Regions from separate parts of the Homo sapiens genome. Here region 1 is linked to region 2. The links come from fine-mapping of genetic effects on gene expression. A gene starts in region 2. The other region holds a variant in brackets. All regions are shown on one strand. Distances are from middle to middle.

Region 1 (5,376 bases), 320 kb after region 2:
AAAGGAAAGTTTTAACTCTGCAAGTTGAATGTACACATCACAAATCTGACTCTCAGATAGCTTCCTTCTAATTTTTATCCTAGGATATTCACTTTTTCATTTTTGGCCACAATGAGTTCTCAAATGTCTGTTCACAGAATGGAGAAAAACAGGGTTTCCAAACTGCTGAATCAAAAGAAAAGTTTAACTTTGTGAGATGAATGCACACTTCACGAAGCAGTTTCTCATAAAGTTTCCTTCTAGTTTTTATCTGAAGATGTTTCCTTTTTCACCGTTGATGTCAATGAACTCACGAATATCCCTTCATAGATCCTAGAAATACAGTGTTTCCAAACTGATGAACGAAAAGAAATGTTTAACTCTGCAGGATGGATGCACACAGCACAAAGTGGTTTATCAGGTAGCTTCCTTCTAGTTTTTATTGTGGGATATTCATTTTTTCACCATTGACCTCCAAGCACTCCCAAATATCTCTTCGAAGATTCCACAAACACAGTGTTTCCAAACTGCTGAATTTAAAACAATATTTAACTCTGAGAGATGAATCCACACATCACAAAGTGGTTTCTCTAATAGCTTCCTTCTACTTCTTATCCTGGGATATTCACTTTTTCACCATTGGCCTTGATGAGCTCCCAGATGTCCATTCACAGAAAGGTCAAAAACAATGTTTCCAAATTGCTGAATCCAAAGAAAGGTTTAACTCTGTGACATAAACGCAGATATCACAAAGCACATTCGCAGAAAGTTTCTTTCTATTTTTTATCTGAATGGGATTCCTTTTTCACCATGGGCCTGAATGCATTCCCAAATATGCCTTCACAGATTCTACAAAAACAGTGTTTCCAAACTACTGAATGAAAAGAAAGGTTTAACTCTGCGAGGTGAAAGCACACATCACAAATTGGTTTCTCAGAGAGCTTCCTTCTAGTTTTTATGCTGGAATACTCCCTTCTTTGCCATTTGCCTCAATGAGCTCCTAAATGTCCATTCACAGAATGCACAAAAACAGTGTTTCCACCTGCTGAACCCAAGAAAAGGTTTATCTCTGTGAGGTGAATGCAAACATCACTAAGCAGTTTCTCAGAAAGCTTCTTTCTAGTTTTTATCTGAAGATGTTTCCTTTTTCACCATAGTCCTCAATTCTCTCCCAAATAACAAATGGCAGATCTGACAAAAACTGTTTTTCAAAACTCCTGAGTGAAAAAAAAGTTTTACTCTGCTAGATGAATGCACACATCACAAGGCAGTTTCTCAGAGAATTTCTTCCTTGTTTTATGCTGGGATATTCGGTTTTTCACCATTGACCTCAATGTGCTCCCAAATGTCCATTCGCAGAATGGACAAAAACAGTGTTTCCAAACTGCTGAATGTAAAGAAAATTTTAATCCTGTGAGATGAATGCACAGATCACAAATCAGTTTCTCAGAAAGCTTTCTTCTAGTTTTTAGCCTGGGATATTCACTTCTTTGCCATTGGCCTAGAAGGGCTGCCAAATATCCATTCACAGAATGGACAAAAATAGTGTTCCCTAAGTGCTGAATAAAAAGTAAGGTTTAACACTTTGAGATGAATGCACACATCACAAGCAGTTTCTCAGAAACTTCTTTGTAGTTTTTATCTGAATTGTTTCCATTTTGACCATAGGCCCCAATGTGCTCTCAAATATCCCTTCACAGATTCTACAAAAGCAGTGTTTTCAACCTGCTGAATGAAAAGAAAGTTTTAGCTCTATGCAATGAATGCACACCTCACAAAGTGGTTTCTCAGTGGTTTCTTCTAGTTTTTATCCTGGCTTATTCACTTTTTTGCCATTGGCCTCAATGAGCTTCCAAATGTCCATTTGCAGAATGGACATTCTGCAGTTTCCAAACTGCTGTATTAAAAGAAGGGTTTAACTCTGCAAGATGAATACACACATCATAAATGGTTTCTCAGATAGCTTCCTTCTAGTTGTAAACCTGGGAAATTTACATTTTCACCATTGGCCTCAATGCTCTCCCAAATGTCCATTTGCTGAATTAACAAAAACAGTGTTTCCAACATGCTGAATAAAAAGAAAGGTTTAACTCTGTGATTTGAATGCACACATCACAACAGTTTCTCAGAAAGTTTATTTCTAGTTTTTATCTGAAGTTGTTTCATTTTTCACCACAGGCCTCAATGTGCTCCCAAGTATCCCCTTGCAGATTCTACAAAAACAGTGTTTCCAAACTGCTGAATGAAAAGAAAGTTTTACATCTGTGAGATGAATACACACATCACCTAGCAGTTTCTAAGATACCTTCCTTCAATTTATTATGCTGAGATATTCACTTTTTCACCTTTAGCCTGAATGAGCTCCCAAATGGCAATTCGCAGAATGGACAAAAACTGTTTCCAAACTGCTGAATCCAAAGAAAGTTTTAACTCTGGGAGATGAATGCACATATCACAAAGCAGCTCCTAAGAAATCTTCTTCCTAGTTTTTACACTGGGATAATCCTTTTTTGCCAATGGCCTGAAAAAGCTCCCAAATATCCACTCATAGAATGGACAAAAACAGTGTTTCCAAATTGCTGAAACAAAAGAAAGTTTAAACACTGTGAGATGAATGCATACATCACAAAGCAGTTTCTCAGAAAGATTCTTGTTTTTTTCTGAAGATATTCCCTTTTCTGAAGATATTTCCCTTTCCACCATAGGCCTCAATGTGCTCCCAAATATCCTTTTACAGCTTCTACAAAAACAGTTTTTACAAACTGC[C/T]GAATGAAAGGAAATGTTTAACTCAGTGAGATGAATGCACACGTCACAAAGCGGTTTCTATGATAGCTTCCTTCTTGTTTTTATCTTGGGATATTCTCTCTTTCACCATTGGCCTCAATGAGCTCAAAAATTTCCATTTGCAGAGTGGACAAAAAGACTGTTTCCAAACTGCTTAATCCAAAGGAAGATTTAACTCTTTGAGATGAATGCACACATTACAAAGCAGTTTCTCAGAAAGCTTATTTCTTGTCTTTATCTGAAGATGTTTCCTTTTTCACCATAGGCCTTATTGTGCTTCAAAATATCCCTTCACAGATTCTAAAAAAACAGTGTTTCCAGACTGCTGAAAGAAAAGCATGTTTTATCTTTGTGAGGTGAATGCACACATCACAAAGTGGTTTCTCAGAGAGCTTCCTTCTAATTTTTATCTTGTGATATTCGCTTTTTCACCATTGGCCTCAATGAGCTCTCAAATATCCATTGGCAGAATGGAAAAAAACGATGTTTCCAAAGTGCTGAATCCAAATAAAGTTTTAACTCTGTGAGATGAAAGTGCACATCAAAATTCAGTTTATTAGAAAGCTTATTTCTGTTTTTATCTGAAGAAGTTTCCTTTTTCACCATAGGCCTCCATGCGCTCCCAAATATCCCTTCAAGGATTCAAGAAAAACAGGTTTTCCAAACTGCTGAGAGGAAAGAAATGATTAAATCTGTGAGATGAATGCACACATCACAAAGCAGTTTCTCACCAAGCTTCTTTCTAGTTTTTATCTGCAGATGTCTCCTTTTTCACTGGTTGCATCAATGTTAAAGTCTGTAAGATGAATGCACACGTGACAACGGGGTTTCTCTGGTAGCTTCCTTCTAGTTTGTTTCCTGGGATATTCACTTTTTCTCCATTGACCTCGACATACTCTCAAATGTCCATTCACAGAGTCGACAAAAACAGTGTTTCCAAATTGCTGAATCAAAAGAAAGGTTTAAATCTGTGAGATGAATGCACAAATCACAAAGTAGTTTCTCTGAAAGTTTCTTTCAAGTTTTTATCTTTATTTATTTCCTTTTTCACCATAGGCCTCAATGGTCTCCCAAATACCCCTTTGCAGATTTTACAAAAACAGTGTTTCCAAACTGCTGAAAGAAAAGCAAATTTTAACTCTATGAGATGAATGCACACATCACAAAGCAGTTTCTCACAATGCTTCATTCTTGATTTTATCTGAATATGTTTCCTTTTTCACCATAGGCCTCAATGGTCTCCCAAATATCCCTTTGCATAATTTACAAAAACAGTGTTTCCAAACTGCTGAAAGAAAAGCAAATTTTAACTCTGTGAGATGAATGCGCACATCACAAAGTAGTTTCTTACAATGCTTCATTCTTGTTTTTATCTGAAGATGTTTCCTTTTTCACCACAGGCCTCCATGCACTCCAATATCCCTTTGCAGTTTCTACGAAAACAGTGTTTCCAAAATGCTGCATGAAAAGAAAGGATTAAATCTGTGAGATGAAAGCAGACATCACAAAGCAGTTTCTCAGACAGCTTCCTTCTAGTTTTTATATGGGTTATTCACTTTTTCACCACTGGTCTCAATGACCTCCAATATGTCCATTCACAGAAAGGACAAAAAGAGTGTTTCCAAACTGCTGAATCCAAACAATAGTTTAATTCAGGTAGATAAATGCACACATCACAAAGCAGTTTCTGGGAAAGCTTCTTTCTAGTTTTTATCTGAAGATATTTTGTTTTTCACCACAGACCTCAATGTGCTCTCAAATACCCCTAAGCAGAATATACAAAAACAGTGTTTCTAAACGGCTGAATGGAAAGAAATGTTTAACTATACGAGATGAATTCACACATCACAAAGCATTTTCTTAGATAACTTCCTACTATTTTTTATGCTGCAATATTCTGTTTTTTGCCATTGGCTTCAATGAGCGCCCAAATGTCAATTCACAGAATGGACAAAACCAGTACTTCTAAACTGCTGAATAAAAAGGGTTTTAATTCTGTGAGATGAATGAACATATCATGAAAGAGTTTCTCAGAAAGTTTCTTTCTAGTTTTTATCTGCAGATATTTTCTTTTTCACCACAGGCCTCAATGCCCTCCAAAATATCCTATCGTAGATTCTACAAAAACAGTATTTCCAAACTGATGAAGGAAAAGAAAGGTTTAACACTGCGAGATGAATGCACATGTTACAAAGTGGTTTCTCATATAACTTTGCGCAAGATTTTATCGTCAGATATTTGCTTTTTCACCATTGGCCTCAATGAGATCCGAAATGCCCATTCGCAGAATGGACAAAAACAGTGTTTCTAAACTGCTGTATCAAAAGAAACTTTGAACTCTGTGAGATCAATGAACACATCTCACAGCAGTTTCTCAGAAAGCTTCTTTCTAGTTTTTATCTGAAGATATTTTGTTTTCCTCTGTAGGGCTCTTTTCACTCCCAAATATACCCTTGCAGTTTCTACAAAAACAGTGTTTTGAACATGCTGAATTCAAAGAAAGGATTAACATCAAAAAGTGGTTTCTTAGATTGCTTCCCTCTAGATTTTATCTTGGGATATTCGCTTTTTCTCCGTAGGCCTCAATGAGCTCCCAAAAGCCCATTTGCAGAA
Region 2 (5,376 bases):
TTAATCTGTTGTCACCATGCTCAATTGGCACCAAAGAAGGGCAGATTTCTGTGCCGCCTGTCTGTCATCACCGCTCTCGTCAAGTATAATTACAGGGTCACGACTACATAGAGATCTCTCAACCCACCAAATGTGTCCGTACTTTTATGAGCCCGGTTGGGAGAATAAACAGGGCATTTAGCAAAGTACTCATCGTATGTTCTTTGGTCTGCCATGTCTCTTGTGAAACCAATCAAATTCATGTTTCTGTTTTTTTTCCAGCCCTCGACTGTCCACAGAATACTGAAATAAAAGAAGAGTGAATACATTTTATGCAACAAGGAGGAAAAACAACAAAGCGAAAGTCTTAGAGGCTTGTGATACATACACAGGGGATACAGAATAAGGAGATTCTTCCAGAATCCACACAAAGACGGACAGACAGAGGGATGGGAGGAAACAAATTGAGAAAAGAGAGAGAGCAGAAAAGATCAAGAGAGACAGAGATGTAAAGGGAAGAAAGATGAAAAAGAAAATAGAAAGGCAGAGAAACAGAAGAAGAGAATGAGAAATGAGAAAAAAGGGAGGAAGAAAAAGAGAGAGAAGAAAAAGAAAAGAAAGAAAAGGAAAGAAAGTGAAAGAAAAAAAGAAAGATGAAGGAAATAAAAAACAAGGCAGCACAACATGGCTTATGCCTATACTCCCAACACTTTGGGAGGCTGAGGTGGAAGAATCGCTTGAGTCCAGCAGTTTGAGACCAGCCCTGGCAACACAGTGAGACCACGTCTCTACTTAAAAAAAAAAAAAAAAATTAAAAAGTTAGCTGGGTGTGATGGCAGGCGCCTGTAGCCCCAGTTCCTTTGGAGCCTGAGGTGGGAGCATCTCTTGGGCTCGGGAGGTGGAGGCTGCGGTGGGCCTTGGTCAGGCAAATGTACTGCAGCCTGTTGCCCAGGCTCGTCTCGAACTCCCGAACTCTAGCGAACTGCCTGCCTCAGCCTCCGAACTTGCACCTGCCATATCCAACGGCCCTGGGGGTATACAGTGACAGATTTTAGTAGACATGGCGTTTTGCCATATTGCCCAGGTTGGTCTCGAACTTGAATCCGGGAATTTGAGGCTACAGTCAGCCATGGTCGTGCCACTGCACTGCAGTCTGGGTGATGGAGCAAGACTCCATCTCTAAATAACTAAATAATAAAAACAATAACAATAATAACAAACAATAATACAAAGAAATACTAACAACAACAATAATAATAAACTAGTAGGAGTGAAAAATATAAAAATATAAAAGATAATTTAGATCACAATTAATAGCAATAATTTCAAGGAGTTATTTCTTTAACCTGTCTCTCTTACTTTCTGAAACAGGGTCTTTCTCTGTCACTCAGGCTTGAGGCCAATGGCGTGATCATGGCTCACTGCAGCTTCGACATCCCAGAATCAAGCAATTCCTGCAGTCTCAGCCACTTGGAAGGTTGAGATAGCAAGATCACCTGAGGGAGCCCAGGAAGGTCGAGGCTGCGGTGAGCCGAGATTACATTCTCATACTCCAACCTTTCTCAAAAAAGAAAAATAAAGGTAAAACAACAGCAGCTTCAGTGTGTAAAAAGAGGAATAAGAAACATAAAAGAAAAAAGAAAAACAAAATGAAGGACAACTGAAAGTACTGTGGAAACAATTGGAGAGGAAGAAACGACGTAGTGAGAGAACGACATCTAGTGGATGCAGGTGGTAGTGCTGCTGACCAGAGAGATCTGTTCTACCTTAGAAATCCCAAGTTAACCATCAAAGCCAGCGCTCGCCGCCGACATTTGGTGGACCCGGCGCTCGCGGACGGAAGCGATCAGACCCAGTTGGAACCTTATCACACCGAGCCTGCCCACCTTTGCGGCCATCTAACTCCGCCGACCTGCCCGCCGTTCCGCCACCGTCGGCTGGTTGACCCGGGCTGCGGAGAGAGGAGGAAAGACAGAAAGGCAGTGACTGGCTCCTGTCCCATTCCCGCGCGCCTGGGGCGGGTAGAGGGGCCGTGACCCCAGTGGCCACCACTGGGCATGCGTGAACACTACTCGGACAGGAACCACAGGGGCACACCCTCTGACACCCACGCCTCAGCCATTCTCACCAGGCCCGATAAATCCGATCCCAGCCCCTGAAGGAGGTCAAAGCGGGGTGCAGGAAGGAGGCGGAATTGGAGAGGGAACGACGAGCATGGGCGACACCCCTACCTCGGCAAACCCCAGCACAGCACCTTGGAAAGCCCGCAGATGGGGACGGGCGCCTCCCGAAGACACAGCGGGCACCAGTGGTCTCTCGGGAGGGACACCTGCTGCGTGCTTCGGGGCTCCGGGTCCGGTGGGCATGAGCGGGCGAGGAAACTAGGTTCCGGGTATAACAGGAGAAAGGAAGGAAGGTAGACGTCAAGGGCTGAATTACACAGGACACGCCACATCACCAGGTCCCCCGCGCACGGGTGCAGGGAACCTTGTGTGGAGGTTTGACTTTCAATAGATCGCAGCGAGGGAGCTGCTCTGCTCCATAGAAAACCCTGACCCAGAAGCAGGATGTCTACAAATAGTTTAGCATCCGGTTCCCCAAAAACACGTTATGTGATGGGTCAGGGGGTGACCGCCCTTCTGGCAGCAGCCCATTTCCTACGATGAGGGGCTCTCTGCACCGGATCCTGGTTCCCGGCGCATGGCGGGACATGCCCCTCCTGAGGCAGAGCGGCCCGCCGGAGGGGACGGCAGAGGACCGCCTATCCAAGGCCAACAAAGCCAAGCACATACACAAAATGTCTGAACCTGCGGTTCCTCTCGTACTGAGCAGGATTACCATGGTAGCAACACATGGGCAACAACACAAGGGGAACGCAAACAGTAAAACTAACCTGTCTGACATGGATCTAACCATAATGCTTTTAGGGCATGCGCACCGCTGTTGGGTGAATCCATTCTAGTCCGCCTTGCCCTTCGCAAAGAAAAGAGAACTCTCCAGACGCGGTGGATCACGCCTGTAATCCCAGCACTTTGGGAGGCTGAGGAGGGAGGATCACCTGAGATCAGGAGTTCAAGATCAGCTTGGCCAACATGGTGAAATCCTGTCTCTACAAAAATACAAAAATTAGCCAGGCATGATGGCGGGTGCCTGTAATCCCAGCTACCCAGGAGGCTGAGGTGGGAGAATCGCTTGAATCCGAGAGGCGGAGGTTGCAGCCAGCCGAGATCGCGCCATTGCACTCCAGCCTGGACAACAAGAGTGAAAGTACCTCTCAAAAAAAAAAAAAAAAGATACAAATAATTATATGGGCTCTGTTGCCCAGGCTGGAGTGCAGTGGCTTGATATCAGCTCTCTGCGGCAGCCTCCATCTCCCGGGTTCAAGTGATTCTCCTGCTTCTGCCCCTCGAGTACCTGGGACTAAAGGCAAGCGTGCCACCAAGCCCAGCTAATTTTTGTATTTTTAGTAGAACTGGGGTTTCACCATGTTGGCCAGGCTGGTCTTGATCTCCTGACCTCAAGGGATCCACCCGCCTTAGCCTCCCAAAGTGCTGGGATTACAGGTGTGAGCCGCCACACCTGCGCTATGTGTTTTTTAAATCTCTCTTTCTAGGGTCATGAGAATTCTCATTAATTTCACTTAGAGCTCCTGGAGAGAAAAGCCTCTATTATTGTCATTGTAACAGTAAAAAAAAGAGAGATTTTTTTCTTTTGAGACAGAGTTTTGCTCTTGTTGCCTAGGCTGGAGTGCAATGGCCCAATCTCAGCTCACTGCAACCTCCACCTCCCAGGTTCAAGTGATTCTCCTGCCTGGGCCTCCCAAGTAGCTGGGATTACAGGCATGTGCCACCATGCCTGGCTAATTTTGTATTTTTACTAGAGACAGGGTTTCACCATGTTGGTCAGGCTGTTCTCGAACTCCTGACCTCAGGTGATCCACCTGCCTTGGCTTCCTAAAGTGCTGGGATCACAGACGTGAGCCAGTGTGTCCAGCCTTTTTTTCTTTTTTTTTTTTTTGAAACAGGGTCTCCTTCTATTGCCCAGGCTGGAACACAGTGGCACAATCATAGCTCACTGCAGCATCAAACTCCTGGAGCTCAAGCAACCCTCCAGGCTCAGCCTCCCAAGTAGCTAGGATTACAGGTGCACACCACTACGCCCAGGAAATTTTTTCTATTTTTACACAAAATGCCTCAACATGGATTTTTTTTCTTTTTTGGCAGAGATGATGTCTCACTATGTTGCCCAGGCTGGTCTCAAACTCCCCACCTCAAACCATCCTTCCACCTTAGCCTCCCAAAGTGCTAGGATTACAGGCGTGAGCCACTGCACCCAGCCCCAATAACTTTTTTTTTTTTTGGCAGTCTCGCTCTGTCAACCAGGCTGCTGGAGTGCAGTGGCGTGATCTCAGCTCACTGCAACCTCTGCCTCCCAGAGTCAAACAATCCTCCCGCCTCAGCCTCCTGAGTAACTAGAATTACAGGCTGATGGCAGCACGCCCTGCTAATTTTTGCATTTTTAGTAGAGACGGGGTTTCACCATGTTGGCCAGGCTGGTCTTGAACTCCTGACCTCAAGTGATCCACCTGCTGTGCATGGCCTCCCAAAGTGCTGGGATTATGGGCGTGAGCCACCCCACGTGGCTCCCAAGAACTCTTTAAATGAACCTAGTGTCACAAGAACAGATAGCTAAACTGTATCTGAAAAGGTGGCTCATACGGGGAAATTTTTGGTGGATTTGGGGAAGCTTAGGGCAAATTTTAAACATGAGGCCTTTTGTCAGATCACCTACATTCCTTGGATTCTACGTGGGTTTGTTGCAGATGCTTAATATGACAAATTACATGACTTCTATCACTTCATTTGATCAGCCTCCCATTGACTTTCAGCCAAGTCCTGCAGAATCGCTTCTCAGATTGTATGTTTCCTCAAGACTAAGATGTTTTCATAGTCTCTCTCTAACTTCCCCTTTTTGTGGCTATTTATTTATATTTATATGTTTTTCAACTCCTTATTTTTTTTTCTCTTTATAAAAGCTTTAACCTGTGCTATTCTTGAGGGAAATACTGATGCATATCTAAACTTTAAGGGTGTTTTTCATCCTGGCTACAGACACTCGGTGAATAATTTTTCAGGTTATGGGAAAACCCATCATTATGAGAATGTAGCAACTTTTATTTTGCAGTAACTGTTAAAATTGTAGCCATGGTGCTCAGTAAAAGGGGACCTTCCCCCTGTAGGTGTTTGGAGAGGAGTTTTTTGTTAGTAACCTGCTTATGGATGGGGCATTATCACCTAGAAAGGAAAGAGGTACCGTGGTATGCAGTTAAAGGGAGCTGGGGCAAGAGCAAGGCAAAGAAATTCCCTCATGTCTTCAATGCAGAGCCAGCATTTAGAC

The links. PIP is the estimated chance that this variant, and not a neighbour inherited with it, causes the effect.
Region 1: its variant is the best candidate, but not a certain one, in a credible set for the expression of LINC02963 in whole blood (TOPMed, PIP 0.63).

What each region holds. Positions count from the first base shown.
Region 1 is chr12:34,539,342-34,544,717 of GRCh38, forward strand. No RefSeq gene overlaps it. Among named protein-coding and RNA genes, the nearest start is that of LINC02963, 320 kb to the left of the region's middle. The variant C/T (reference allele first, on the strand shown) is at 2,746.
Region 2 is chr12:34,216,916-34,222,291 of GRCh38, forward strand. It overlaps LINC02963 (long intergenic non-protein coding RNA 2963), which reads right to left and starts at 2,296. Exons shown (of 5, transcript NR_185896.1): 1 at 2,211-2,296; 2 at 1,866-1,930. RefSeq lists enhancers at 1,472-1,972, 1,750-1,899, 1,973-2,473.